4 linked regions of the Homo sapiens genome follow. Changing the gene in region 3 together with the main gene of any one other region gives a genetic interaction. Each region holds a gene or a part of one and is shown on either strand. Other genes may lie near its edges. The genes, in order: CKM, CDKN1A, MAP2K7 and AXL.

Region 1 (8,359 bases), about 37 Mb from region 3:
TTGGTGCAAGCCGAGCCCCGGAATGTGGGGGTGGGGCGGGGCAGCAGCTGGGGGTGGGATGGCAGGCAGTTGCCAGATTCTAAAAATAACCACCCTGGACAGCAGCACCCAAGGTCTTTGGCGGGTCCCTGTTCCTCTTCCCTGGCTTCAGCTCACCGTGGTCCCAATCTCCCTCCCACAATCCCACCTGCTTCCCATCCCCGTCTCCCACCGCTGCTGGAGGCCCCTTCTCCTTTCTGGGTCCCTTCTCCTTTCTGGGTCCAGTGAATAAAATAATAATAACAGTAGGACCTGGCGCAGTGGCTCACACGCATAATCCCAGCATCTTGGGAGGCCGATGCTGGAGGATCACTTGAGGCCAGGAGTCCCAGACCAGCCTGGGCAACATAGTGAGACCCCATCTCTGCAAAAAAGTAGTAATAACAAATAACAATAATAGCAGCCACCAGGGTTCCAGGCTCCAACTCCATGCCAGGGCCTGTGCTCAGCCAACCTCATGGCCAAGCTCAGAGGATCCTGGCAATCCTACGGGGCAGGCTCAGTTCACAGGAGACAGAGGTCCAGAGAGGCCTAGTGACTGGCCTGGGGTCACACAGCAGGGAAATGGCATAGGTGGGATTTGAACCTGCCTCTGACGACCCAGAGGCTGAGCTTTTCTTCCCTTCTGAGCCCTGTGGGAGAACTGTCAGCAGGCAGAGGTGGGGGCAGCTACCCAGCCCTCCCCCGACCCAGCCCTTTGTCTTTGGATTGATAATCCAAGAACCTGCTCACATACTCCCAGCAGCACCCTCACCTCCACCTTCTCACCAGCTCCTCGCACGAACCTTTAAAATAACAACAACAGGCCAGGTGCCGTGACTCATGCCTGTAATCTCAGCACTTTGGGAGGCAGAGGTGGGCGGATCACTTGAGTTCAGGAGTTCAAGACCAGCCTGGCCAACATGGCGAAACCCCAACTCTACTAAAAATACCAAAAAAAAAAATAGCCAGGTGTGGCACACGCCTGTAGTTGCAGCTACTCAGGAGGCTGAAGCAGGATAGTTGCTTGAACCTGGGAGGTGGAGGTTGCAGTGAACTGAGATTATGCCACTGCACTCTAGCCTGGGCGACAGAGCGAGACTCTGTCTCAAACATAATAATAATAATAATAATAATAGCAGCTAAGTGAAATAATGCTTATTGTGTACCAGGCACTGTTCCGAGAGCTACACCTGTATTCACACATTTAATCTTTTCAACACTCCCATGCGGCAAGTGCTGTTAGGATCCTCATTTTCTAGATGAGTAAATTGAGGCACAGAGGTTAAGCAACTTGCCCCTGGCCACACAGCTGGTTGTAGGTAGCAGAGCTGGGAATCAAACCCTGGGCTGATTCCAGAACCTACACTCTTACCCACACAAAATATTTTTCCAGCCTCCGGGAGGGGCCCGTTTTCCACCTGGGGAAATTGAGTTTCCAGCAAGAATGACTAGTCCAGGCTCACCCAACTGGGATACGGCAGAGCCAGGCCCTTGATCTAAGACTCCGGATGCCTTCCTGCTGAGACACAGGGGCTCAGAGAGAGGATTTCTCTTGCTCCAAGTTACACAGCCTGCCTGACCCCAACGCCTTGCCCAGTTCTCTTGCTGCTGTCTGCAAGATGCGAGCTAGGCGGGGCACAGTGGCTCACGCCTGTAATCCCAGCACTTTGGGAGGCCGAGGCGGGTGGATCACTTGAGGCCAGGAGTTCGAGACCAGCCTGGCCAACCAGTAGAGATGGTGAAACCCCATCTCTAATAAAAATACAAAAAAATTAGCCAGGCATGGTGGTGTGCGCCTGTAATCCCAGCTACTCAGGAGGCTGAGACAGGAGAATCTCTTGAACCTGGGAGGTGGAGGCTGCAGTGAGCCGAGGTCTCGCCACTGCACTCCAACCTGGGTAACAGAGTGAGACTCCATCTCAAAAAAAAGAAGAAAAGGCCGGGTGCAGTGGCTCACGCCTGTAATCCCAGCACTTTGGGAGGCCGAGGCGGGCGGATCACAAGGTCAGGAGATCAAGACTATCCTGGCTAACATGGTGAAACCCCGTCTCTACTAAAAATACAAAAAATGAGCCGGCGTGGTGGCGGGCGCCTGTATTCCCAGCTACTCGGGAGGCTGAGGCGGGAGAATGGTGTGAACCCAGGAGGTGGAGCTTGCAGTGAGCCGAGATCGTGCCACTGCACTCCAGCCTGGGTGACAGAGCGAGACTCCGTCTCAAAAAAAAAAAAAGAAGAAGAAGAAGAAAAAAGATGCCAGCTAATCTTCAATCTTCCCCTCCTGCCCTGCCCATCAGGTCTCCTACACCGCCACCATGCCATTCGGTAACACCCACAACAAGTTCAAGCTGAATTACAAGCCTGAGGAGGAGTACCCCGACCTCAGCAAACATAACAACCACATGGCCAAGGTACTGACCCTTGAACTCTACAAGAAGCTGCGGGACAAGGAGACTCCATCTGGCTTCACTGTAGACGATGTCATCCAGACAGGAGTGGACAACCCAGGTGAGCCTCCCCAGTGGAGCACTGAAGGGGCTACATGGGGGCTCTGGAGGCTGCCGGCCATGCCCCAATCCCACCACCCTTGAAGGGGGGGGGGCCTCAGTTTTCTCATCTGTAAAATGGGGCTGTTGTGGGAATCAATGCATTAATATACATAAAGGCTTGGGACAGTGCGAGGTACTCAGCAAACCACGCAATAAACATGCACGAGAATAATGTGAGATCCCCAAGGAGGTCGGTTCACCTCCTGAACCTCAGTCTCCTCATCTGAAAAATGGGCGCCCACGTTGTGAAAACACAAGTCAATGGCTGTGCAGTGCTTAGAGTGGCACCTGGCACCAAGTGAGTGCTCAAGCTCTGACAGGGGGGCCAGGTGCAGTGGCTCATGCCTGTAATCCCAGCACTTTGGGAGGCCCAGGTGGGAGGATCACTTGAGGCCAGGAGTTTGAGACCAGCCTGAGCAACATAGCAAGACCCTGTCTCTACAAAAAATACAAAAAAATTAGCCAAGTGTGGTGATGAGGGCTTGTGGTCCAAGCTACTCAGGAGGCTGCGGTGGGAGGATCGCTTGAGCCTGGGAGGTGCAGGTTGCAGTAAGCCGAGATCGCGCCACTGTACTCCAGCCACAGAGTGAGACCCTGTCTCAAAAAAAAAAAAAAAGAATCTGACAGGGGATGTTATTAATGTTATGGTTGTTTCTCAAAGGACATTGCAAGGCGAAGAGAGCTGGGAGTGGAGGGGAGGCTCTAGTGCCCCTCACATCCAGCTCACTGTGTGATGCCGGGGAGAAGCCCCTCTCTCCTGGCCCCTGTTTTTCCACTGGGAAACAAGAGGGTCTTTCAAGTCTCTTACCCTCCTGACCCTCTGTGGTACGGTGGTAGCCTGAGATCCTAACATTTCAGGCTAAGATGTCATGACTTTGGGTGCTAATGTTTCCGAGGTGCTGATGCTTTTAGCACCATGTACCCTCTGAAGCTCCCCTTTCTCCTTTGACCCCGCCCCCAGCACTCTTTCTTCTCTCCCACCTTGACCCCTCCCAGCCACCTTGACCTCTCCCAGCCTTCCCTCCCAGTTCCCACCAGTCCTCAGTGTTCTCTCTTTTTTTTTTTTTCCTTTGGAGACAGAGTCTTGCTCTGTCACCCAGGCTGGAGTGCAGTGGTGTGATCTTGGCTCACTGCAACCTCCACTCCCTTGGTTCAAGCAATTCTCATGCCTCAGCCTCCTGAGTAGCTGGGATTACAGGTGTGTGCCCCACACCCAGCTAATTTTTGTATTTTTAGCAGAGATGGGGTTTCACCCTGTTGGCCAGGCTGGTCTCACACTCCTGACCTCAAGAGATTCACCCGCCTCACCCTCCCAAAGTGCTGGGATTGCAGGCATGAGCCACTGTGCCCAACCCTTATGATTCTCAATTCCCACCCAGAGGTATTGAATGTACCCGCCCCCATCCCGACACACATGTCCACACAGGCTCCACTGAGCCCACAAGCCCACGCCCTGTTTGCTGGGGACAAGCAGCTCTGACCTCACCCCCACCCCTCCAGGTCACCCCTTCATCATGACCGTGGGCTGCGTGGCTGGTGATGAGGAGTCCTACGAAGTTTTCAAGGAACTCTTTGACCCCATCATCTCGGATCGCCACGGGGGCTACAAACCCACTGACAAGCACAAGACTGACCTCAACCATGAAAACCTCAAGGTCGGTGTCTGCGCAGGAGGGGAGGGCCGAGGGGTGAGGAGGAGAGAGATCACAGGAGAAATGGGGGGAGACAGAGAAATACAGAGACAGAGAGAGACACAGAGGTGTGGAGAAGCAGAGAGATGGAAAGAGAGAGGGACATTGGGAGGCTGAGGCGAGCGTATCACTTGAGGTCAGGAGTTCAAGACCAGCCTGGCCAACATGGCAAAACTCTGTCTTTAAAAAAAAAAAAAAGGGCTGGGCACGGCGGTGGCTCACGCCTGTAATCCCAGCACTTTGGGAGGCCAAGGCGGGCAGATCACCTTAGATTGAGAGTTTGAGACCAGCCTGACCAACATGGTGAAACCCCGTCTCTACTAAAAATACAGAATTAGCTGGGTGTGGTGGCACATGCCTGTAATCCCAGCTACGTGGGAGGCTGAGGCAGGAGAATCGCTTGAACCTGGAAGGCAGAGGTTGTGGTGAGCAGAGATCGTGCCATTGCACTCCAGCCTGGGCAACAAGGGCGAAACTCGTCTCAAAAAATAAATAAATAAATAAATAAAATAAATTAGCTGGGCATGGTGGCGCGTGCCTGTAATCCCAGCTACTCAGGAGGTGGAGGCAGGAAAATCTCTTGAACCCAGGAGATGGAGGCTGCAGTGAGCTGAGATCATGCCACTGCACTCCAGCCTGGGTGACAGAGCAAGATTCTATCTCAGAAAATAAAAAAAGGAAAGAGAGAGGGACAGAGAGACACAGAGACAGCCAAGGAGACACAGACAACCAAGGAGACAGACAGACAAAGGAGAGGGAGAGGGAGAAGAAAGGCACAAAAGCATGTAGAAAAGGAAGAGGCATAGCCGGGCACAGTGGCTCACGCTTGTAATCCCAACACTTTGGGAGGCTGAGGTGGGCGGATCATAAGGTCAGGAGTTCGAGACCAGCCTGACCAACACGGTGAAACCCAGTCTCTATTAAAAATACAAAAATTAGCTAGGCATGCTGGTGTTCACCTATAATCCTAGCTATTCAGCCTGGGTGACAGAGCGAGACTCTGCCTAAAAAAAAAAGGGTGGGGGGAGAGGCAGAGACACAGAGGGAGACAGAAGGGAGCATCAGAGAAGGCAGGAGAGACAGGGAGAGAGAGACACACGCAGTTGCAGTCAGACACAGACAAGGAGAGTGGGAGAAAGGGAGACAGGAAGAGAAACAGAAATGGGCAGAAAGGCTGGGTGCAGTGGCTATACCTGTAATCCCAGCACTTATGGAGGCTGAGGTGTGAGGATCACGTGAAGCCAGGAGAGTTCACGACCAGCTTGGGCAACATAGCAAGAACCCGTCTCTGCCCAAAAAAAAGAAAAAAAAAAGCCTAAAAATTTAGCTAGGCATGGTGGCTCATGCCTGTAATCCCATCACGTTGGGAGGCTGAGGCAGGAGGACTGTTTGAGCCCAGGAGTTTGAGACCAGCCTGGGCAACATAGTGACACCCTGTCTCTATTTTTTTTTTTTTTTTGAGACAGAATCTCACTCTGTCACCCAGGTTGGAGTGCAGTGGCTCGATCTCAGCTCACGGAAACCCCTGATCCCCAGGTTCAAGTGATTCTCGTGCCTCAGCCTCCTGAGTAGCTGGGATTACAGGCGCGCACCACCACGCCCAGCTAATTTTTGTATTTTTAGTAGAAATGGGGTTTCACCATGTTGGCCAAGCTGGTTTCGAACTCCTGACCTCAGGTGATTGGCTCACCTCGGCTTCCCAAAGTGTTGGGATTACAGGTGTGAGCCACCGCGCCCAGCCCCTGTCTCTATTTATAAAAAATTTATTTTAAGTTAGCCGAACATGGTGGCATATACCTACCTGTTAGTCCCAGCTACTTGGGAGGCTGAGGCAGGGGAATTGCTTGAGCCCAGGAGTTTGAGGTTGCAGTGAGCTATGATGGCACCACTGCACTCCAGCCTGGGCGACAGAGAGAGACCCTGTCTCGAAGAAAAAAAAGGAAAAGAAATATACGAAGATGGGGAGAGAGAGGTATAAAGAAAAACAGAGATAGGAGAGGGGAGAGAGACAGAGAAGGGAGAGACAGAGCCCAGGTATGGGTGGCGGGGAGAGGCTCCACACACCCAATCAGTGAGGATGCAGAAGGCAAAGGAAGCAACAGGGAGACTGAGGGGAGCATCTGGGGGAGACCTGGGCTTGCTGGAGAGGGCGGAGGATCTGCCTGGTCCTGATCTCCCACCCGCTCTCCAGGGTGGAGACGACCTGGACCCTAACTACGTGCTCAGCAGCCGCGTCCGCACTGGCCGCAGCATCAAGGGCTACACGTTGCCCCCACACTGCTCCCGTGGCGAGCGCCGGGCGGTGGAGAAGCTCTCTGTGGAAGGTGAGCGCCCCTACCCCGTCCACTGCTGGGGTCACCCAGCCCTGGCTCTGTTCCTCCATGGGCAGGTCCTCGGGTCTCTTTGGGCCCCCGCTTTTCAAAGTAGGGGAAGAGCTTGGTAAATCGTGGGGGCTTGGGGAATGGCGCGGGCTGTCAGCATTACCTGCTGTGTTGGAGATTCAGGGATGCTGTCCAGACCCGACGGCCCCTGAGAAGACCTACGCAGACACCTGGCTGCCCCCAGCGTCCTGCCATCCGTTCATCCAGCACACATTTCCAGGGGTTCTTGCCCTGTGTGGGGAGATAGGGGTCCCTCACTGTTCTCACAGAGTGTTCAGCTGGTGGGGAGACAAGAGGAAATACAGAAACCCACAGATGAACAAGATAATTCAAAAGTGCCATGAAGCCAAGACATGGGTGTGGTGGAGAATGACCGAGGGGAGCCACCTCAGATAGGAGGAGTTGAGGCCGGGCACAGTGGCTCCCACAGCAGTGCGGGAGGCCTAGGAGGGAGGGTCGCTTGAGCCCAGGAGTTCAAGACCAGACTGGGCAATACAGCAAGACCCTGTCTCTACAAAAAAGACAAAAATGAGCCAGGAGTGGTGGCACACACCTGTCATCCCAGCTACTCAGGAGACTGAGGTGGGAGGATCACTTGAGCCCGGGAGGTTGAGGCTGCAGTGAATCGTGATTGTGCCACTGCACTCCAGCCAGGGTGACAGAGTGAGAACCTGCCTCAAAAACAAATAAAAAGAGGCCAGGCACAGTGGCTCACACCGTAATCCCAGCATTTTGGGAAGCTGAGGCAGGTGGATCATTTGAGGTCAGGAGTTTGAGACCAGCCTGGCCAACATGGTAAAACCCCATCTCTACTAAAAATACAAAAATCAGCTGGGTCTGGTGGCACACACCTGTAATCCCAGCGACTTGGGAGACTGAGGCAGGAGAATCGCTTGAACCTGGGAGGCAGAGGTTGCAGTGAGCTGAGATCACGCCACTGCACTCCAGCCTGGGGGACAGAGTGTGACTCCATCTCAAAAAAAAAAGTTATGTTTATCCTATACTGTAGTCTGTTAAGTGCACAATAGCATTATGTCTAGAAAAAAAAAAGTACATACCTTAATTTTAAAATCCTGCTAAAAATGTTGTGATCATTTGAGGACTCAGCAAGTTGGAACCTTTCTGTTGTGTAGGGCCTTGCCTTGATGTTGATGGGCTGCTGACTGATCAGGGCGGTTGTCGTTCAAGGTTGAGATGGCTGCGGCAATTCCTTCCTTCCTTCCTTCCTTCCTTTCCTTTCTTTTCTTCCTCCCTTCCTTCCCTTCCTTCCCTCCCTCCCTTCCTTCCCTTCCCTTCCCTTTTCTTCTCCGTCCTTCCTTCCTTCCTTCTTTCCTCCCTCCCTTCCTCCCTTCCTTCCTTCCTTCTCTTTCTCTCTCTCTTTTCAAGACAGGGTCTTGTTCTGTTGCCCAGCTGGAATGCAGTGGTGCAATCATGACTTACCATAACCTCCAACTCCTGGGCTTAAGTGATCCTCCCATGTTGGTCTCCCAAAGTGCTGGCATTACAGGTGTGAGCCACAGTGCCTGGCCAGCAGTAATAGTTTGAAAAGAATCTCTTTTTTGAGATGGAGCCACACTCTTGTCGCCCAGGCTGGAGTGCAGTGGTGCAATCTTGGCTTACTGTTACCTCCACCTCGTGGTTCAAGCAATTCTCGTGTCTCAGCCACCCAAGTAGCTGAGATCACCGGCATGCGCCACCACGCCTGGCTAATTTTTGTATT
Region 2 (3,059 bases), on a different chromosome or scaffold from region 3:
AGAAGCTTGGCAAAGGGCCTGGCATAATGAACATTCCCAATAAATGTTAGCTAGTTGGTCTTTGCTGCCTACTTGCTGTGTGACCTCAGGGAGGTTGCTTCCCCTCTCTGGGCCTGTTTCCTTCTACCTGGAGCATGCTGGACCAGGACCAGACAGGTCAGCCCTTGGACCATGGATTCTGAGAATCCTGGTCCCTTACAAAGTCCTTCCGTGCACATGTCCGCACCTGTCATGCTGGTCTGCCGCCGTTTTCGACCCTGAGAGTCTCCAGGTCCACCTGGGGACCCTTCAGCCTGCTCCCCTGAGCGAGGCACAAGGGTACAAGACAGTGACAGGTCCACATGGTCTTCCTCTGCTGTCCCCTGCAGCAGAGCAGGTGAGGTGCCAGGCCGCCTGCCTCCTCCCAACTCATCCCGGCCTCGCCGGGGCCCCGTGGGAAGGTAGAGCTTGGGCAGGCCAAGGCCCCGCACACGCTCCCAGGCGAAGTCACCCTCCAGTGGTGTCTCGGTGACAAAGTCGAAGTTCCATCGCTCACGGGCCTCCTGGATGCAGCCCGCCATTAGCGCATCACAGTCGCGGCTCAGCTGCTCGCTGTCCACTGGGCCGAAGAGGCGGCGGCAGGCCTTGCTGCCGCATGGGTTCTGACGGACATCCCCAGCCGGTTCTGACATGGCGCCTGCAGCAGAGATACAAGGAAGGCCCTGGTCACGGCGGAGATTAGACACTATGTTACCTGGCCGGGCTTTGCTGTGTCACCTCAGGTGACGTCTTCCTACCAGAGGGTCTCTCTCACTCCTTCCAGCTGGTCTTCCTGCTTCCTTCCCACAGGAGGCCTGACCCCCACCAGCAGAGCTCAGCCAGCCTGGCACACCAAGGTCACTGGGAGAGCAGGCAACTGAAGGGCAAGCTAATGTCAACAAAGGCAAGTCTATTGCAAGAGCAAGGACCAGGGTCCTGTTTGCCACCAGGTATTATCAGCTAAAATCAATTTGTTTTCCCCCCAGAGGTGTCCCTCATGGGTGTGAATGCCCCCCAAATATGTGTGAATTGCCAGAGTCCAGCAGTTTCCTAATCGCAGCCCTGGCCAGAAGGTCAATTCCCAAAAGAAGAAACAGTCTGACAGTTCCTCCAGCCTCCTAAGTCCCCCGACCCAGATCCCCAAGTAGGGTAACCCTGCTCTGCCAAGTAAAAGTACCCGGGACTTTGGGGCAAAAAGCACCCGGGTTGTGGTCCTAGCTCTGCCAGTTACTACGTAAGCTTTAAAAAGCCACTTAATGTCTCTAGGTCTCAGTTTCCTCATCCATAAATGGGGCCATGTACAAGTTTAAAGAGCATGGCTACAGACACATACTCAAGAAATTGATCACAGAGTCCATGCAGCAAGGCAGACAGAACAGAGCTGAATGAAAGGCTGTATCCTGGTGGTTAAGCAGGAGGGCTCTGGAGCCAGATCACCTGGGCTGGAGTCCAGGTTTTACTAGGTGACCCTGGGCAAGCAACTTAACTTGTCTGAGCTCTAGTTTCCTCATCTATAAAATGGGGATAGTAATAGTGACTGTCTCAGAGGATAGACATGAGAATTAACTGAGTTAATGTAGGTAACGTGCCAGCAGCACTTCGTATAGAGAAGTGCATTGAAAACAGAAGTATGATTATTCCTCTCTGCCTTCAGTTTTACTGAGCCTCCCCCCTATCACTTCCCCCTGCCAACTACCTCCTTCAGACAGCAGCTGACAGGTGCTGTAGGCTGAGGGCCTTTCCCAAGGATGTCGTCAGGCGGGTGGCCTAGGGGTAAGGAGGGGCCGGGCGGGGCAGCGCAAGGGATGATTTCTCCCAGGCTGAGCCACATCCTGCCAGGCACATCAGGTGATCTGAAGTCTAGACACCTGGCAGCCCCTGCCTCGTGTTGCCTGTGTCCAAGGAAACCGTTTTGCAGGCAAAAAGAAAATTAAAGGTGGCTGGTCTACCTGGCTCCTCTCCTCCCCCTTCAGGAGAGGGAAAACGGAGAGTGAGTTTGCCCATGAGGGAGCCCTGGCACCTACCTGCCTGCTCTGGCTTGACTCCAGGGCTGAGTGACTGCACGACCTTGGCAGCAACTGGATTTTCCTAGGGACAAGTCCCAACTTGCAGTTTCTGGGGGTGAAAGCTCTGCTGAGTCCTCATGAGGCAGGAAGCCCGGGACACATGCCACATCTGCTCCACCCCACCTCACCCCACTGCTTGTGATCAGTGGAGCCCACAGTTTCACGTCCCAGCTGGTTGGGAGAGGAGGCTCTTGGTAACTTCACACCAAGTTTAAAGGGCAGGAGATGGAAGAGATATGAGACTTGCCCCTGAGTCATACAGCTAAAAAGGCCAAAGGCCACTGCCCCATAAAGGGGTCACCCAGTACAGTGGACAGAGCCCTCAAATAACCTCTATCCACCCTCTGCTAGGCATGAGTTGGGATTTATTTATATATTTTTATGTTTGGGGGCTGTTCTAAGCAGTTTAAAAATATCAATCCTCCTAAAAAGTGGATATCTATTAGCTCCCTTTTTACAGAAGAGGCAACCAAGGCTCAGATAAGTTAAGTAACTTGCCTAACATCACACAGTTCATAAGTGGCACAGCCAGGATCTGAACCCAGGCCTGTTTGCCCTGAGTCCTGTGCTGTAGTATTGAACCCCACTCCCTCTCTAATTTTGAGGTTTCTTAACCAGAGAGGCCCATCACAATCACTTGGGGAGGCCAGGGGCAGTGGCTTATGCCTGTAATCCTAATACTCTGGGAGGCAGAGGTGGGAGAATCATTTGAGCCCAAGGGTCCAAGACTAGCCTGGGCAACTAGCTGAGACCCTGTCTCTACTAAAAATAAAAATAAATAAAAATTAGCTGGGTGGTTGGGTGCAGTGTCTCACACCTGTAATCCCAGCACTTTGGGAGGCCGAGGAGGGCGGAGCACGAGGTCAGGAGATTGAGACCATCCTGGCTAACACGGTGAAACCCCGTCTCTACTAAAAATACAAAAAAAAATTAGCCGGGCATGATGGCAGCACCTGTAGTCCCAGCTACTCGGGA
Region 3 (8,359 bases):
GGACACCTGAGGTTACTTGACCACATAGAGCCCCTCCCCATCTCTTCTGACCCGAGGATTCTCCCTCTCGCTCTCCCTGTGACCGTGTCTGAGGTGGGGGGACGGGAGGGGGTCCCTTCTCCCCCTCTTGGCGACAGTGACCATGGCATTGGGCTCAGCAGACCCCCTCCCACATACACCAGGCCCCGCAAATCCCTGTGACCAGTTTCACTGCCACCATCTTGGTGAGCGTGTGGTGTCTGACCTCCAGAAATGCACATCGACCCCCAGCCAGCCCGGTGACTTTGTCACCTGTGTTCAAGTGATGGCTCCCCTTCCCTTCACACCCACACCCACCTGACCTGGGGACACCTGGGGCCAGTGTGACTCTAGGCCTGCTCCCGCCGCGCCCCAGCATACATCCACCTGCTTTCTGATCAGTCCCACCACCTCGGTACCTACCTCCCTGACACCTTGTCATCCTAGATCAGTACCTCTCGCTTCACACACACCTGGCCTGGGAACACTGACCATATCTAGTCTCCCGGCTTTTTCCCCAAGATCCTGGTCTCTAAATCCTCTGGGCTGGAGGAAATTAGATTTTCAAACCCTGTGAACACCACCCCTGACCCATGATCCTTTTTGTGTCTTTCTTGACCCAGTAAAATTCTCTCTTGTCTCCTCTGATGTGACCTTCGTAGTTTATTTAGTTCTCTCTATGGAGTCATTATGGCAGGCGAGAAAGGTACCCCCGTATCTGGGCACCCCACCCATTCCCTGGTCACCCAGCCTGACCTTCACAGCCTGACACCCTCCTGTCCCTCCCTCTCCTGACCTGAGTCAGCGTGGGTTCCTCCTTGGGGAGTCTCTTGGGGGTCCAGAGAAATCATGGAGGTGGGGATTCTGGTGCAGGACACTGCCTGAGACAAGAAGCCCAGCCAAGACACGGGTCCCTGCTAGCCCCTGGGGGCCGCCCTCCCTGGCCCCTGAGTGGATGAGACAGGGTTGAGTCCAGGATCCCGGGTGCCTTCAGGGGTGGCCGTTCCCATGCAGAGCTAGGAGGCCGGTGGCAGGCAGGCCCCCGAGGAGTCCCCTCCAGGCGTCTCTGTCTGTGTCAACTCCATCCCATCCTCCCCGCCCTCCCCATCTCTGTCGGTTCCTAGCCATCTCTGCAGTTCGGTGCCTCCCCCTCCTCCTCGTTTATGATTTGATTTCTTTTCTTTTGGACGAATCAGTCGTTTCTGTTGTGATTTATCGTGGTGTTGTTTTTTTCTTCCTTTTCCCCATCCAGTTATTGTGATCACTCTAAGCCCTGCTCCTGCCCCGTCCCAACGAGCAGGTACCAGCCTTTTTATCATCGCTGCTTGGACATCTGCACCATTGACCTAACCGCTGCCCCGGCCGCAGAATGGCGTCCCCCAGCCCCCATGCTCTGTGTGTGTCCCCATGTCCCTTCCCCTCACTCTCACTTTCTCTCTCACTCCACTCAAGCAGCGGTCAGCCCAGCCCAGCCTCCTCTGCGTCCTCCCTCCTCCTCCCCCTCCCTTACTCCCAGCTCCACTTTGGACTCCCTGGAGGAGGAGGTGGGCTCCCCCACTGAATGGGAGTCTGTGGCCTCCGGGGGTGGGGGGGGTGCACGCCTGTGTGTGTGTAACTGAGAGAACGAGAAAGTTGGGCCTGGTGGGTGGGTGGCCTGTGCCTATGGATCTCTCTCAACAACTAGGTGAACACATAGCACCCCCCGGGTTCCATACCAGCCCTGGGCGCCAGGGACACAGCAGTGAATAGAACAGATGGAGCCCCTCTCCTCTGTAGCGGGGGGCTGCAATAGGGGGGCCCACTGGACAAGGAGCACATTCCCACCAGAGAGAACATTCTAGCTGGGTGAGCGGCCCTGCAGGGGGCCAGCCTGGGGGAACCTCTGGAGACGGTGGGAATTGAACAAAGCCTCTGGGGAGGCCAGGCACGGTGGCTCACACCTGTGATCCCAACACTCGGGGAGGTTGAGGCTACAGGGAGCCATGATCACACCACTGCACCCCAGCCTGGGTGACAGCGAGATCCTGTCTCAAAAATTTAAAAACTGGGCCAGGCGCAGTGGCTCATGCCTGTAATTTCAGTACTTTGGGAGGCCAAGGAGGGTGGATCACTTGAGGTCAGGAGTTCGAGACCAGCCTGGCCAACATGGTGAAACCCTGTCTGCATTAAAAATACTAGAGATTAGGCCAGGCACAGTGACTCACACCTGTAATTCCAGCACTTTGGGAGACCGAGGCGGGTGGCTCACCTGAGGTCGGGAGTTCGAGACCACCCTGACCAACATAGAGAAACCCCGTCTCCACTAAAAATACAAAATTAGCCGGGCATGGTGGCACATACCTGTAATCCCAGCTACTCGGGAGGCTGTAATCCTAGCTACTCGGGAGGCTGAGGCAGGAGAACCGCTTGAACCCGGGAGGCGGAGATTGCAGTGAGCTGAGATCGCACCATTGCACTTCAGCCTGGGCAACAAGAGCAAAACTCCATCTCAAAAAAAAAAAAAACATAAAAGATTAGGTGGAGGTTGCAGTGAGCTGAGATCGCGCCACTGCATTCCAGCCTGGGCAACAGAGCAAGACTCCGTCTCAAAAAAAAAAAAAATTTAAAAAGCGTCTTGAAGGAGTTGGGGGGGGAGAGAAGACAGGGCCGCCAGGGCTCTGAGCGCAGCGCCAGCCTGTGTGGGGCATGCAGGCTGTGCCCCACGCCTGTGTTGGGAGAGAGAGTAGATGGGGTGCCTGGCCCTGTGAGTGGTTGTGAGTATGTGTGTCCGAGGGCAAGGGGGACTCTGTCCCGGCTGCATGGGTGTTAGGTCCACGGCATGCCCCGGGTGTGTGTTGTGCGTGCGTGCACTTGCACGGCATGTGCGTGCATGTTGACATGGCAGCCGGTGCACCTGTGGCTCCTGTCGGCAGACACGTGCCCTCCAGCCTCTCGCTCTCTCTCATCCGTTCTCTTTCTCATCCTCACCCTCTTGCTCTCACTCCACCCTCCTGAGCTGCCATGTGGCCATCACCACCTCTGTGGCCTCTGTTCTCAGGGCCTTTGTGTACCTCCTTCCCCCAGTGCCTACCTGAACCCTCCCTTCCATCCCCCCATGCTCCAGTCTGTGGTCCGGCAGCCTCCTCCCCAGGCTCCGGGGCCACCCTCGGAAGGCCTGGTGGGCTCTGTCAGGGAAGGGGCCCACAGGACTCCTCGAGGGCTGTGGTCGTCAACCGCTGAGTGCAGGGTGTGAGCGGGACTCGGATACTCTCTGAGGGCGGGAACTAGGCAGTGTCTCAAGAGATGCCAGGTGCACAGGGGTTGGGGGCTGGGTTGGGGGGAGCACAGGCCCTCGGGAGCCAGAAGGGGACTGGGGCTGTGGCTCAGGCCATGGACAGAGCAGAGGCGCAGGGACCTGAAGAAGCAGAGGGAGAAGCCTGGCCAACATAGCGAGACCCCATCTCTACTCAAAAGACAAAAATTAGCTGGGTGTGGTGGCGTGTACCTATAATCCCAGCTACTCAGGAGGCTGAGGCAGGAGAATCACTTGAACCTGGGAGGGGGATGTTGCAGTGAGTTGAGATCACGCCACTGCACTCCAGCCTGGGTGACAGAGCGAGAACCTATCTCAAAAAAAAAAAAAAACAGTGGGAGGTGACGTGGTGCTGCAGAGGCGGCAGTGGCCAGGACAGCGGGAGGGGCACGGGAGGTGAGGCCTCTAGGCCAGTCATGAACGCTGGGCCTGGCTGTGTCCCAAGGTCCCCAGAGCCCTTCCCCTGCTCCTGCCTGGTCCTCCAGGAGGGGAGCTAGGGGGCACAGCTCCTGCAGGGGCTGGCAGGACCAGATAGGGGCAATGCTGGGCCTCCTGCATTGGGACTGAGGCGTCTTCCTGCCCCTCCTACTGGCTGAGATCAGGGTCCTGGGCACACGGGAGGGACGGGGTTTAGCTGCCAGCATGGAGCGGGTTTGTCTGTTCATATTAGTCCCTGGGCACCAGTCACCAGGAGCCTGCAGAACTGTGGGGAGAAAAGGTGGACGAGGCAGGAGGAAAAGAGGGGAGAGGGGCTTGTTGGCTGAGGGCTTTGGAGAGCGGCAGGCCCCAGCTCCTGTGGGAGGGGCACCTTGGTAGGTGTGTGTAGCCGTTGTCAGGGCCTCTAGGATGTGACGTGTCAGGATTGGCTCCTCTGGAGGCCACGTTAGCATCCCGGCCTCTGTTCCTGCACCCTGTTGCCAGCCCAGCCAGGGAGACCCTAGCTCCTCCGGGAAGCTGCCCTCCTGTCCCAGGCCCCTCTCTGGCCTGTCTCTGCAGCGCCTCCTCTGGGCACCTGGGCCCTAGTCTTGGTTCCTGTCTGTCTGTCTGTCTCCTGCCCTCCCACCCCTAATGCCGCCTGCCCACCCCAGGGTGCCTGCTGCCTGCCCGCCGCCTGCCCACCCGCTGTAGCATGCCCGAGCTGCCCGCATGCAGGCTGCTGGATGAGCCAACCCCCGCCTGGCCCAGCATTGGCCCCACCTGGTCCCGCCAGCCCCTGCAGGAGCTGTGCCCCCGAGCTCTCCTCCCAGAGGATGCAGGCCCCCTGAGGTCCTGTCCTGCCCCCATGGGCCCCAGCTCTGCAGGCCAGGCCAGGAGGCCCTCATGTCAGCCCACTGGCCCGAGGGGGGCCCTCCCTGACCCCGGAACAGAAGATAGGGCAAGGCAGCCTGAAGCCTGGGTCTCGTGCCCGCTGCCTCCCCAGCGTGGCCCTGCTCGCTCTTGTCTGGGAGCCAACTTCAGTGCTACCAGCAGAGCCACAGCCTGGGCCAGCCCTGGCAGGCACTCCGCCCTGGCCTATCCATCCTGTGGGTGCTGTGGCCCTGGGCCTGCTTCCTGGGCAGAAGTGGGAGGAAGTGCACACACCTGTCAGGGAGGCCCCCTGGCCGAGGGACACCTCAGGTCCCCATCTCGTTTCTCCGTCAGCGTAGACTTGGGGCTCCCTCTCCCCTGCTAGCCTCCTCCATCTCTTTCCAGGTCAGGGGATGAGACAAGGGACCCTGAGAACAGTCTGGGGTGGGAGGGAGACCCCAGCTCCTCCAGCCCAGCAGGGCAGGGGGCTGTGCCAGCCTAGCTCGGGAAACCCAGGAGGGGAAGGTGAGGGTCCCGACCCCTCCCTGGAGTGCCAGATGTGGAGCTGACACCAGCTGGGCGCTGACCCCCCTCCCTGCCACTGGTTCTCACCCCCCTAGCCCTGCAGCTCCCGCTGGCCAACGATGGGGGCAGCCGCTCGCCATCCTCAGAGAGCTCCCCGCAGCACCCCACGCCCCCCGCCCGGCCCCGCCACATGCTGGGGCTCCCGTCAACCCTGTTCACACCCCGCAGCATGGAGAGGTGAGCCAGGGGCCCAGCAGGGTTGGGTGGGAAGCAGCATTGAGGGGCCACCGTGCCAGCCCTGGGAGGAGGGTGGTTAAACCGGTGGGAACCCCGGTATGGGGGACTGGGGTGGCCAACCTAAGGTCAGGACCCACCTCCACCGGCACCTGCTCCATGTCCCCAGCATTGAGATTGACCAGAAGCTGCAGGAGATCATGAAGCAGACGGGCTACCTGACCATCGGGGGCCAGGTACCACCTTCACTGTGGCGGGGAGAGGGAGGAGGCCCAGCCAGGCTGGACCCATCCTGGGAGCGCCAGTGGGGGGCAGGGGGCGGTGGCAGAGGCCCCAGGGACCCTCCAACCCTCCCTCTCCTCCCAGCGCTACCAGGCAGAAATCAACGACCTGGAGAACTTGGGCGAGATGGGCAGCGGCACCTGCGGCCAGGTGTGGAAGATGCGCTTCCGGAAGACCGGCCACGTCATTGCCGTTAAGGTGAGCCTTGGCGGCTACCCCGGCTGCGCCCCACACCCCAGGCCGGTGCTGAGGCTCCCTCCTGTCCCTGCCTGTGCAGCAAATGCGGCGCTCCGGGAACAAGGAGGAGAACAAGCGCATCCTCATGGACCTGGATGTGGTGCTGAAGAGCCACGACTGCCCCTACATCGTGCAGTGCTTTGGGACGTTCATCACCAACGTGAGTACCTGGCCGCGCCCTGCAGCGTCTCCTCCTCCCTCACCCCTGCCCCTTCCTAGGGAGCAGAGCCTCTGGGGGGTGGGCCGGAAGACACAGCTCCCCCGGGTGCCCCTCTCCCTGCAGACGGACGTCTTCATCGCCATGGAGCTCATGGGCACCTGCGCTGAGAAGCTCAAGAAGCGGATGCAGGGCCCCATCCCCGAGCGCATTCTGGGCAAGATGACAGTGGCGGTGAGTGACCAGGCGGGGCTTGCACTGGGCAGGATGACAGAGGCGGTGAGTGACCAGGCGGGGCGTGCACTGGGCAAGATGACAGTGGCGGTGAGTGGCCAGGTGGGGCGTGCACCGGGCAGGTGGCCTTGGGTCTGTGCCCCCTGCCACATGCACCCCCCTCTGCGTGCCTGCAGATTGTGAAGGCGCTGTACTACCTGAAGGAGAAGCACGGTGTCATCCACCGCGACGTCAAGCCCTCCAACATCCTGCTGGACGAGCGGGGCCAGATCAAGCTCTGCGACTTCGGCATCAGCGGCCGCCTGGTGGACTCCAAAGCCAAGACGCGGAGCGCCGGCTGTGCCGCCTACATGGCAGTGAGTGGGGGCCCCCCAGCGGGGGAGGGGGTGGGGGCTGGGAGGCCGGCCCCAGCCTTGGAGATACGTCTTCTCCTCCCCCCCCTGCAGCCCGAGCGCATTGACCCCCCAGACCCCACCAAGCCGGACTATGACATCCGGGCCGACGTATGGAGCCTGGGCATCTCGTTGGTGAGTTGGGGCCCTCCCCTGTTCTCCAGCCAGGAGTGAGGGCTTCTGGGGGACTCGGAGGGAGGAGAACATAAACCTGTCCAGCCCTGCCCGTCTCCCTCCCAGGTGGAGCTGGCAACAGGACAGTTTCCCTACAAGAACTGCAAGACGGACTTTGAGGTCCTCACCAAAGTCCTACAGGAAGAGCCCCCGCTTCTGCCCGGACACATGGGCTTCTCGGGGGACTTCCAGTCCTTCGTCAAAGACTGGTGAGAACCTCCCTCCACTTGGGAGGTCAGGGACAGCCCGCTGCTCTGGGCAGCTGGGGAGGCAATGGCAGGAGGGGAATGGAGGCCGCACCCTGGGATGGGCGGATGCGACTGTGGGCGGGCTCCTGGCTGGCGGCTGCCACAGGAGCTGGAGCTGGTGCCCAGGGAGCCATGAGCTGGGTTTGGACCTAGCCTGAGGGGACAGCCAGCCCTGTGGCATTTGGCGGGGTGGCTGTTGGAGATTGTGAGCACGCTTCTGCAACAAGCACAGCTACAAGTTCAGGAGGGCCATGTTCGATTCTCTCAGGGGAGCCCCACCCACCTTTCTGGGGGACCTCAGCCAGCTCTGGCCCCCCAAGCCAGGCCCTTGCCACCTGGCCCTAGGCCAGGAGGCTCCGGGACTCACAGTTGCTCCCCGCTGTCAGCCGGGGTCCTGAGGACATCCACAGCTCCTTCCCCCACACACATCTTGGGGACCCCTGGCCCCTTGGGGAGGGCCTGAGCACAGGGGTGGGGCCGGCATCCCCTCCTCCCTCGTTCTCACATCTGTCTTCCCTTCTCTTGCTCTAGCCTTACTAAAGATCACAGGAAGAGACCAAAGTATAATAAGCTACTTGTGAGTACCTGAGCCCTCCCAGTCCCCGTCCTGTCCCTGCGGAGGCGCGAGGCCAGGAGGGAAGACCGTCTCCTCCTAAGCCCCACCCCCTCGGGCCCACAGGAACACAGCTTCATCAAGCGCTACGAGACGCTGGAGGTGGACGTGGCGTCCTGGTTCAAGGATGTCATGGCGAAGACTGAGTCACCGCGGACTAGCGGCGTCCTGAGCCAGCCCCACCTGCCCTTCTTCAGGTAGCTGCTTGGCGGCGGCCAGCCCCACAGGGGGCCAGGGGCATGGCCACAGGCCCCCCTCCCCACTTGGCCACCCAGCTGCCTGCCAGGGGAGACCTGGGACCTGGACGGCCACCTAGGACTGAGGACAGAGAGTGGGGGGTGCCCACCCACCCCCCCCGCCCCGGGCCTACCAAGCCCCCGCCCTTCCCACCCCGGGGTCAGCCGGCCGTGTGCGTCCCCCGACAGACACTGTGAACGGAAGACAGCAGGCCGCGATCAGAGTCGCTGTTCATTCAGCCGCAGCCTCTGGGCCGGGGCGGCCCCCAGGGGCCAGGAGAGAGCCCTGGAGTCCCGCAGCCACCATGCACGCTCCCAGCGTGCTGTGTCCTTCGCCACTCCCACGCGCCCGTTCCTCTTCCGTCGCCCTCTGTCCCCTGCTCTACCTCTCTGTCCTTGTCTGGCTCTCCCGTCACCCTCCCTGCCTCTG
Region 4 (8,359 bases), about 33 Mb from region 3:
ACCAATAAAATGGGAATGATAATAGTAGCACCTGAGAAGATTAAATGAGTTAATATATATAAAGTTGGCCAAGCGCAGTGGCTGACGCCTGTAATCCTAGCACTTTGGGAGGCCGAGGCGGGCAGATCGTGAGGTCAGGAGATCGAAACCATCCTGGCTAACAAGGTGAAACCCCGTCTCTACTAAAAATACAAAAAATTAGCCGGGTGTGGTGGCACACGCCTGTAGTCCCAGCTACTCAGGAGGCTGAGGCAGGAGAATTGCTTGAACCCGAGAGGCGGAGGTTGCAGTGACCCGAGATCAAACCACTGCACTCCAGCCTGGACAACAGAGTGAGACTCCATCTAAAAAAAAAAAAAAAAAGAAAATATATATTTTATATATATATATATATTATATACACACACACAGACACACACACATACACATATCACATATAAAGTGCTGAGTATGGTGCCTGGTACTTACTAATCATGTTTGATGAAGATGAGTGATGATGATGATGATGATGATGATGGAGTGGAGGTGGAGGGAGAGTCCTCCCTCTCCTCCCCTCCTCCTCACGACCTTTCTCTCTCCCTCAAGTTGCCATCTGCACGAGGTCAGAGCTGGAGGATTTCCTGAGTGAAGCGGTCTGCATGAAGGAATTTGACCATCCCAACGTCATGAGGCTCATCGGTGAGAGAGGGGCAGATTCAAGGGGTCTACAAGCCCCATGGGGGCCATAGCAGAGGGAAGAGCCCTGCTTCTGGCCCTGGGAAGATCAAACTTCCAGGCTTCCTGCTCCCCGCTCCTTCAGGGTCAGCAGGCTTCCCCCTCCTAGTCTCCCTCAGCTTGGAATGTGACCTCTGATCATTCCCAGAAATAGCTGAGGTCCCCAGGAGGGCTCCGGAAACGTCCCTGGGAACTCTGCTGGAAACAGCTTCTCTGCAGCTTGGTCCTTGCCACTGCCACTACCCCCAAACAATATGGTGGCCAGATTGGATGGGTAGTGAGAAGGAGAGGCTGGAGGCTGGCTGGTGGGGGGCTTGGCTTCCCCTTCTGCCCAGCAGGAGTGACAGGGCTACCTGGGGGGCTCAGGTGTCTGTTTCCAGGGTTCTGAACGAGAGAGCTTCCCAGCACCTGTGGTCATCTTACCTTTCATGAAACATGGAGACCTACACAGCTTCCTCCTCTATTCCCGGCTCGGGGACCAGCCAGTGGTAAGGGGCGTTTAATCATTCAGTCTACAAATATTAACTGAGCATCTATCAGGTACCCAGTGCTGCTCAGACCCTGGGAAGACCACGGTGACCAGGAGCTTGCTCTCCTGGAGCATTTCTTCCAGCAGGGGAGGGGCGGATGATAAACAAGCTAATAAATACCTAAGCGAGATGATTTAAATGTTTAAGTGCTAGGAAGGAAATACAGTAGGATGGAAGATAAGGAGGCCAGGCAGTGAATTTGGGTGGACGTGGAAGATCTTGCCGAGGAGGTGACCGTGAAGGAGTTGGGGCTGGGGAGATGTCTGGAGATCTGGGCAGGAAGCGACCCCAACAGAGCGCACAGCATAGGCAAAGGCTCGGAGGTGGGAATGATCATCGTTTGTCTGAAGACCAGACAGGAGTCTGGTGGGAGTGTCAGTCAAGGGCAAGAACATAGGCAATCAAGTCCAAGAGGAAGGCTGGAGCAAGTTTATAGGACCTTGCAGGCCATGGAGAGGGGTTGGGTTGAATTGTCAGGGCCATGGGAAACCACTGCGGGCAGAGCTAGGCTTGCACAGAGGGATGGAGGGAGGAGGGATCGCATCAAGGACTCTGTTGACCTCTCCTCCCACCTGCCTTGGCTCCCCAGTACCTGCCCACTCAGATGCTAGTGAAGTTCATGGCAGACATCGCCAGTGGCATGGAGTATCTGAGTACCAAGAGATTCATACACCGGGACCTGGCGGCCAGGAACTGCATGTGAGTGCCTTTCAGGGACCCCCCCCCCCCAACTGCTCCTGCACTCCCTGAGGGAGTTCCCTCCCTCCTTCTTAGGATGGAAGCAGGGCTAGACACCCGCTGAGGGCAGGTCAGAACTCAGGACCAGGAAAGTCAGTAAGGGGGTCTGGGAAGGCTTCCTGGAGGAGGTGAGTCCTGAACTGAGATCTGGAAGGAGCATTTGGATGCGGAGAGGGAAGAGACCAGAAGGTGGGCTCAGTGCACAGCATGAGGTGAGCAAAGGGGCTGAGGTGACCGATGGGGGTGGGGACACGTGAGCTGCATCTCTGTCCCACTCCATGCTGGGTGTCTTGCCTGGGGCTGCCCTTTGGAAGCGGCCACACTGGATAAGAAAATCAAACTCCCCACCAATGGACAAGCAGAAAATATGCCAGATGGGGTGCAGTGGCTCACGCCTGTAATCCCAGCACTTTGGGAGTCCGAGGCGGGTGGATCACTTGAGGCCAGGAGTTCGAGACCAGCCTTGGTGAAACCCCCTGTCTACTAAAAGTACAAAATTCAGCCTGGTGCGGTGGTGTGCGCCTGTAATCCCAACACGAGAATTGCTTGAACCCAGGAGGCGGAGGTTGCAATGAGCCGAGATCGCATCACTGCACTCCAGCCTGGGCGACAGAGCAAGACTCTGTCTCAAAAAAAAAAAAAAAAAGAAAGAAAGAAAGAAAGAAAGAAAAAAGAAAATAGTAACCTGTAGTCCCAGCCATTCCCAAGGCTTAGGTGAGAGGATTGCTTGAGCCTCGAGACCAGCCTGGGTAACAACAACGAGACACCATCTCAAAAAAAAAGAAAAAAAGAAAAGAAAGAACAAAAAATCCCCCAAAAGCCAGAATAGAGGGTAAGGGGAGGGTAGAAGGTGGAGGGAATGGAACCACAGAGTTAGAATATTAGTCTTGGCCAGGCGCAGTGGCTCACATCTATAATCCCAGCCCTTTGGGAGGCTGAGGCAGGAGGATCACTTGTACCCAGGAGTTCAAGACCAGCCTGGGCAACATAGTGAATCCTGTCTTTACAAAAAATAAATTAGCTGGGCATGGTGGTGTATACCTGTGGTTCCAGCTACTTGGGAGGCTGAGGTGGAAGGATTGCTAGAGCCCAGGAGGTTGAGGCTGAAGTCAGCCATGATGGTATCACTTCACTACTGCCTGGGCAACAGGGCAAGATCCCATCTAAAAAAAAATTGATGTATATTTTACATACACTAAAATATACACATGCAGCTCAGCTCGATGAATTTTTATGGGTATAGACCCATGTAACCACTAGATGAAGGTAAAGAATATTTCTTAGCCCCAGCAGGCTCCTTCATGCCTCTTCGTCTTCCCAATCACTACCGCCAAGTGGTACCCACTATCCTGACTTCTCAGTGCTAGTTTAGCCTGTTCTGAAAAGTCATACAAATGGGATCATGCAGTTTGTACTGCTTTGTGTCTGGCTTCTATGGCTCAGCATGATGTTTTTGAGATGGATCTGTGTAGGGGTAGTTTGCTCTTTTTCTTTGCTGTGTGGTATGGTATTCCATCATATGAATGTCCTGTGGATTTTCTTTTCTTTTTTTCTCTTTCTTTCTTTTTCTTTCTTTTCTTTCTTTTTCTCTCTGTCCTTTCTTCTTTCTTTTCTTTCTCTTTCTCTCTCTTTATCTCCTTCCTTCCTTCCTTCCCTCCCTCCCTCTCTCTTTCCCTTTCTTTCCCTTTTTTTCTTTCTTTTCTTTTTTGTTTTGACAGAGTCTTACTCTGTCCTTTAGGGTGGGGTGCAGTGGCATGATCATAGCTCACTGTAGCCTCCAACTCCTGGCTCAAGCTATCCTTCTGCCTCAGCCTCCTAAGTAGCTGGAACTACAGACATGTGCCACCATGTCCAGCTAATTTTTAAATTTTTTTGTAGAGACAGGGTCTTGCTTTGTTTTCCAGGCTGGTCTTGAACTCCTAGCCTCAAGTGATCCTCCCACCTTGGCCTCCCAAGGTGCTGAAATTACAGGCTTGAGCCACTGTGCCTGTTTTTTTTTTTGTTTGTTTTTGAGACGGAGTCTCACTCACTCTGTTGCCCAGGCTGGAGTGCAGTGGCGTGATCTCAGCTCACTGCAACCTCCGCCTACTGGGTTCAACTGATTCTCTTGCTTCAGCCTCCCAGGTAGCTGGGATTTCAGATGTGCACCAACACACCTGGCTAATTTTTGTACTTTTAGTAGAGACAGAGTTTCACCACATTGGCCAGGCTGGTCTCAAACTCCTGACCTCAAGTGATCCACCTGCCTTGGCCTCCCAGAGTGCTGGGATTACAGGCGCCAGCCACCATGCCCAGCCATGTTCTGTTTCTTAATCTGGGTGCTGGTTACATGGGTGTGTGTGTGTGTGTGTGTGAAAATTCAGTGAGCTGCTTACTTATGACTTGTGCACATTTCCATATGTACAGTATACTTCAAGAAAAAAAAATTTCATCAAGGAATCAAACCCAAGGAAGGACCTTAGAATCTAGCAAAGAGCCAAAATTGGGAAGTCCTGAGGAAGCCCTTTGTCCCATCCTCACTTGACAGAGTGAACAAGAAGTAAAGCAGTTCCCTTCTGGACTGGGATGAAGGTTTAGGAGACAGATCCCCACCCGCAGCCAGGACAGTGAGGGGAGGAGGTGCAGATGTGTCTGAGAGCCAGGGCAGGCTTCCTGGTGGAGGTGACTGATGCCCTGACCCTGTTCCTTTCCCCAATCCAAACAGGCTGAATGAGAACATGTCCGTGTGTGTGGCGGACTTCGGGCTCTCCAAGAAGATCTACAATGGGGACTACTACCGCCAGGGACGTATCGCCAAGATGCCAGTCAAGTGGATTGCCATTGAGAGTCTAGCTGACCGTGTCTACACCAGCAAGAGCGATGTGGTAGGTGCACTCCCGCCAAGAGTGGGGAACCATGGGAGGGCATGGCCTGACCATCACACACTATGCCTGGGTGGCTGTGGATGCAAGGGTCACAGGGACATGTGGGCTTCCCTTTGCAGGGGCTTGTCCACATGGGCTGGGCATGTCTTGGGGTATGGTGGGCATCTCTGAATAGTGGTGTGTACATGCCCAGGATAAATACAGGCCCACGTGTGCATGGTAGCAATGTAGACAGTTTAGGTTAGAAGAAGCTGCAGTGATTATGCGTGCATGTGCGCACACTCATAGAATGTGGACAGCCAGGGTGTGCAGAGTGGCACATGAGCTCATGTGTCCATGAAGTGTGTATATGTGTGTGATGGTGAGCATGTGTATGCATCCACAAAAGTTACTTATTCATGTGTATACCCGTGTCAAGTATTTTTTATATATATATATTTTTCTTTTTTTGAGATGGAGTCTCGCACTGTCACCCAGGCTGCAGTGCAATGGCATGATCTCAGCTCACTGCAGACTCTGCCTCCCGGGTTCAAGCAATTCTCCTGCCTCAGTCTCCCGAGTAGCTGGGATTACAGGCGCCCACCACCATGCCTAGCTAATTTTTGTATTTTTAGTAGAGACGGGGTTTCACTATATTGGCCAGGCTGGTCTCAAACTCCTGACCTCAGGCAGTCCGCCCACCTCAGCCTCCCAAAGTGCTGGGATTACAGGCATCAGCCACCGCACCCGGCTAAAGTATTATGTTTCTATGAATACTTGTGATGCTCCCAGAGGATGGTTGTGAACATGTGTACATAAGTGTGGGTGTACCCATGAACCTGGGTATTGGTGCGGGTGATTCTGTGCAGGAGAGACTGTCTAATTCCCTCTGCCCCTCACAGTGGTCCTTCGGGGTGACAATGTGGGAGATTGCCACAAGAGGCCAAACCCCATATCCGGGCGTGGAGAACAGCGAGATTTATGACTATCTGCGCCAGGGAAATCGCCTGAAGCAGCCTGCGGACTGTCTGGATGGACTGTGAGGACCCTTAGGTCTCCCCCAACCCAGAATTCATTCCAAACCCCTGACTACCCCCAGATGGCCCTCACAGGTCCAGGACTCTCTATAACCCAGACAGAATCCCTGAGAATGCTGAGTGACCCACTTGCCCCTCACCAATGCTCTGAGTAGGGCCATCACTAACCAGTGGGGTGCAAATCAGCTAAAGGCACCCTTTCCTCCTTTGTCTGTGTGGGCTGAATCAGCCCCCTGGCTCCCCACCCCCAAGCCAGGTATCCTTGGGTAGTGAATAACAGCACAGTCTTACCTGGCGGCCCTGCCTTTGGGACATGCACTCCCAGAGACTTCTCATTCCAGACTCCTGAGCACACCATGCTTCCCCGACATGCTCCTCAACACCTGAGACTCTCTGCAAAACCCTTCAGTTTGTTTTATTGGCCTTCTCCAGACTCAGGTCTCCTCTGAGATATTTGCAGGATCCTTCAGGGAATGCTTACCAAACTTTGCAATATTGGAGTATGCGGAGAAGGCCGTGACATTTAGCTAGCACTTTGAGGGTAAAGAGAGGATGACTTTGGGTCAGGAGGAGACAGCCTGGGGCGTCAGACTCCTCAGTCCACCTTGGGTACTCCAAGAGCTGAGACGAGTAAAAATAACAGCTAACATTTTCATATAACTGACTAGAAGGCACTGTTTTAGGTGCCTGGCATGTGTCAAATCATTTGGTCCTTACCACAGCCATGTGATGTAGATAGGTATCATTATGATTCCCATTCTGCAGATAAGAAAACCCAGTCCTACAGGGAGGGTAATTTATTTTTATTTATTGACTTGAGTCTCGCTCTGTCGCCCAGGCTGGAGCACAATGGCTCCATCTCGGCTCACTGCAACCTCCCAGGTTCTAGCGATTCTCTTGCCTCAGCCTCCCAAGTAGCTGGGACTACAGGCGTGTGCCACCATGCCCAGCTAATTTTTTTTGTATTTTTAGTAGAGATGGGGTTTCACCACCTTAGCCAGGATGGTCTTGATATCGTGACCTCATGATCCACCCGTCCCAGCCTCCCAAAGTGCTGGGATTATAGGCATGAGCCTCCACGCCCAGTCTGGGAGGGTGATTTATTTGCCAAAGATTGCACAGCTGGTGTGTTTGTTATCTATATCCCCAAATCAAGTAGTTTAAAACAACAAACGTTTATTATCTCACACAATTTCTGAAAGTTGGATACTGGGAACAGCTTAGCAGGGTGATTTTGGTTCAGGATCTCTAATGAAGTTACAAAGATATCACTGGGGGCTGCAGTCATCTGAAGGTTGGGACTGGAGGATTGCTTTCAAGGTGGCTTACTCACATGGCTGTAGCAGGAGGCTTCAGTTCGTTGCCATGTGGACCCCTTTGTGGCACTGCTTGAGCTTACTCACAACATGGCAACCCAGGAGAAAGTGCGAGGAAGCCACATGCCTTTTATGACCTAGTCTCAGAAGTCACACACACCATCACTTCTGCCAAATCAGAAGCAAGTCACTAAGTCCTGCCCATGCTCAAGAGGAGAGGATTTATTCTCCGTCTTTTGCAGGGAGGAGGGTCAAAGAATTTATGGACCTATTTTAAACCAGCACAGCTTGTAAGTGGCATAGCCAGGCTTTGATGCAAGTCTGTTCTGGGGAGCTGGAAGGTCTGTTCTAGCAAACCCTCATCAGAATACTACTCCATATACAGACAGGTTTCCCGAGACCCTTCCCAGCTCCTGAGTCTCCCAGGACCCAACTCAGAAATTCTTGGGAATTCCCAAATCCCCATAGATGGCCTCAAACTGCTGAGGCTCCCTATAACCCTCTAAAATGCCCCCAGTCCCCTGAGTGTCCTAAAATGTCCCCAGGCTTCCAGAATGCACCCCTTCTGAGTCCCTGCTCAATCTCCCACCCCTCATTTTGCTGCCCTAGGTATGCCTTGATGTCGCGGTGCTGGGAGCTAAATCCCCAGGACCGGCCAAGTTTTACAGAGCTGCGGGAAGATTTGGAGAACACACTGAAGGCCTTGCCTCCTGCCCAGGAGCCTGACGAAATCCTCTATGTCAACATGGATGAGGGTGGAGGTTATCCTGAACCCCCTGGAGCTGCAGGAGGAGCTGACCCCCCAACCCAGCCAGACCCTAAGGATTCCTGTAGCTGCCTCACTGCGGCTGAGGTCCATCCTGCTGGACGCTATGTCCTCTGCCCTTCCACAACCCCTAGCCCCGCTCAGCCTGCTGATAGGGGCTCCCCAGCAGCCCCAGGGCAGGAGGATGGTGCCTGAGACAACCCTCCACCTGGTACTCCCTCTCAGGATCCAAGCTAAGCACTGCCACTGGGGAAAACTCCACCTTCCCACTTTCCCACCCCACGCCTTATCCCCACTTGCAGCCCTGTCTTCCTACCTATCCCACCTCCATCCCAGACAGGTCCCTCCCCTTCTCTGTGCAGTAGCATCACCTTGAAAGCAGTAGCATCACCATCTGTAAAAGGAAGGGGTTGGA

Evidence for each region.
Region 1: changes in MAP2K7 (region 3) and CKM together harm fitness more than expected from each alone (negative genetic interaction), as found in Homo sapiens cells (one large-scale study listed by BioGRID).
Region 2: changes in MAP2K7 (region 3) and CDKN1A together harm fitness more than expected from each alone (negative genetic interaction), as found in Homo sapiens cells (one large-scale study listed by BioGRID).
Region 4: changes in MAP2K7 (region 3) and AXL together harm fitness more than expected from each alone (negative genetic interaction), as found in Homo sapiens cells (one large-scale study listed by BioGRID).

Annotation. Positions count from the first base shown.
Region 1 is NC_000019.10:45,313,688-45,322,046, reverse strand, and holds part of CKM (creatine kinase M-type), read left to right. Parts: intron 1-2,315; 5' UTR 2,316-2,333; coding exon 2,334-2,526; intron 2,527-4,067; coding exon 4,068-4,222; intron 4,223-6,449; coding exon 6,450-6,582; intron 6,583-8,359. UniProt on the Homo sapiens protein: Reversibly catalyzes the transfer of phosphate between ATP and various phosphogens (e.g. creatine phosphate).
Region 2 is NC_000006.12:36,681,714-36,684,772, reverse strand, and holds part of CDKN1A (cyclin-dependent kinase inhibitor 1), read right to left. Parts: intron 677-3,059; coding exon of another isoform or gene 672-676; coding exon 227-671; coding exon of another isoform or gene 128-226; intron 1-127. UniProt on the Homo sapiens protein: Plays an important role in controlling cell cycle progression and DNA damage-induced G2 arrest. Involved in p53/TP53 mediated inhibition of cellular proliferation in response to DNA damage.
Region 3 is NC_000019.10:7,904,538-7,912,896, forward strand, and holds part of MAP2K7 (dual specificity mitogen-activated protein kinase kinase 7), read left to right. Parts: intron 1-1,270; coding exon of another isoform or gene 1,271-1,318; intron 1,319-5,217; coding exon 5,218-5,359; intron 5,360-5,525; coding exon 5,526-5,592; intron 5,593-5,722; coding exon 5,723-5,836; intron 5,837-5,915; coding exon 5,916-6,035; intron 6,036-6,158; coding exon 6,159-6,266; intron 6,267-6,442; coding exon 6,443-6,622; intron 6,623-6,712; coding exon 6,713-6,793; intron 6,794-6,877; coding exon of another isoform or gene 6,878-6,898; coding exon 6,899-7,041; intron 7,042-7,611; coding exon 7,612-7,657; intron 7,658-7,759; coding exon 7,760-7,894; 3' UTR 7,895-8,359. UniProt on the Homo sapiens protein: Dual specificity protein kinase which acts as an essential component of the MAP kinase signal transduction pathway. Essential component of the stress-activated protein kinase/c-Jun N-terminal kinase (SAP/JNK) signaling pathway.
Region 4 is NC_000019.10:41,251,766-41,260,124, forward strand, and holds part of AXL (tyrosine-protein kinase receptor UFO isoform 1 precursor), read left to right. Parts: intron 1-585; coding exon 586-678; intron 679-1,080; coding exon 1,081-1,202; intron 1,203-1,833; coding exon 1,834-1,943; intron 1,944-4,686; coding exon 4,687-4,846; intron 4,847-5,727; coding exon 5,728-5,864; intron 5,865-7,787; coding exon 7,788-8,139; 3' UTR 8,140-8,359. UniProt on the Homo sapiens protein: Receptor tyrosine kinase that transduces signals from the extracellular matrix into the cytoplasm by binding growth factor GAS6 and which is thus regulating many physiological processes including cell survival, cell proliferation, migration and differentiation.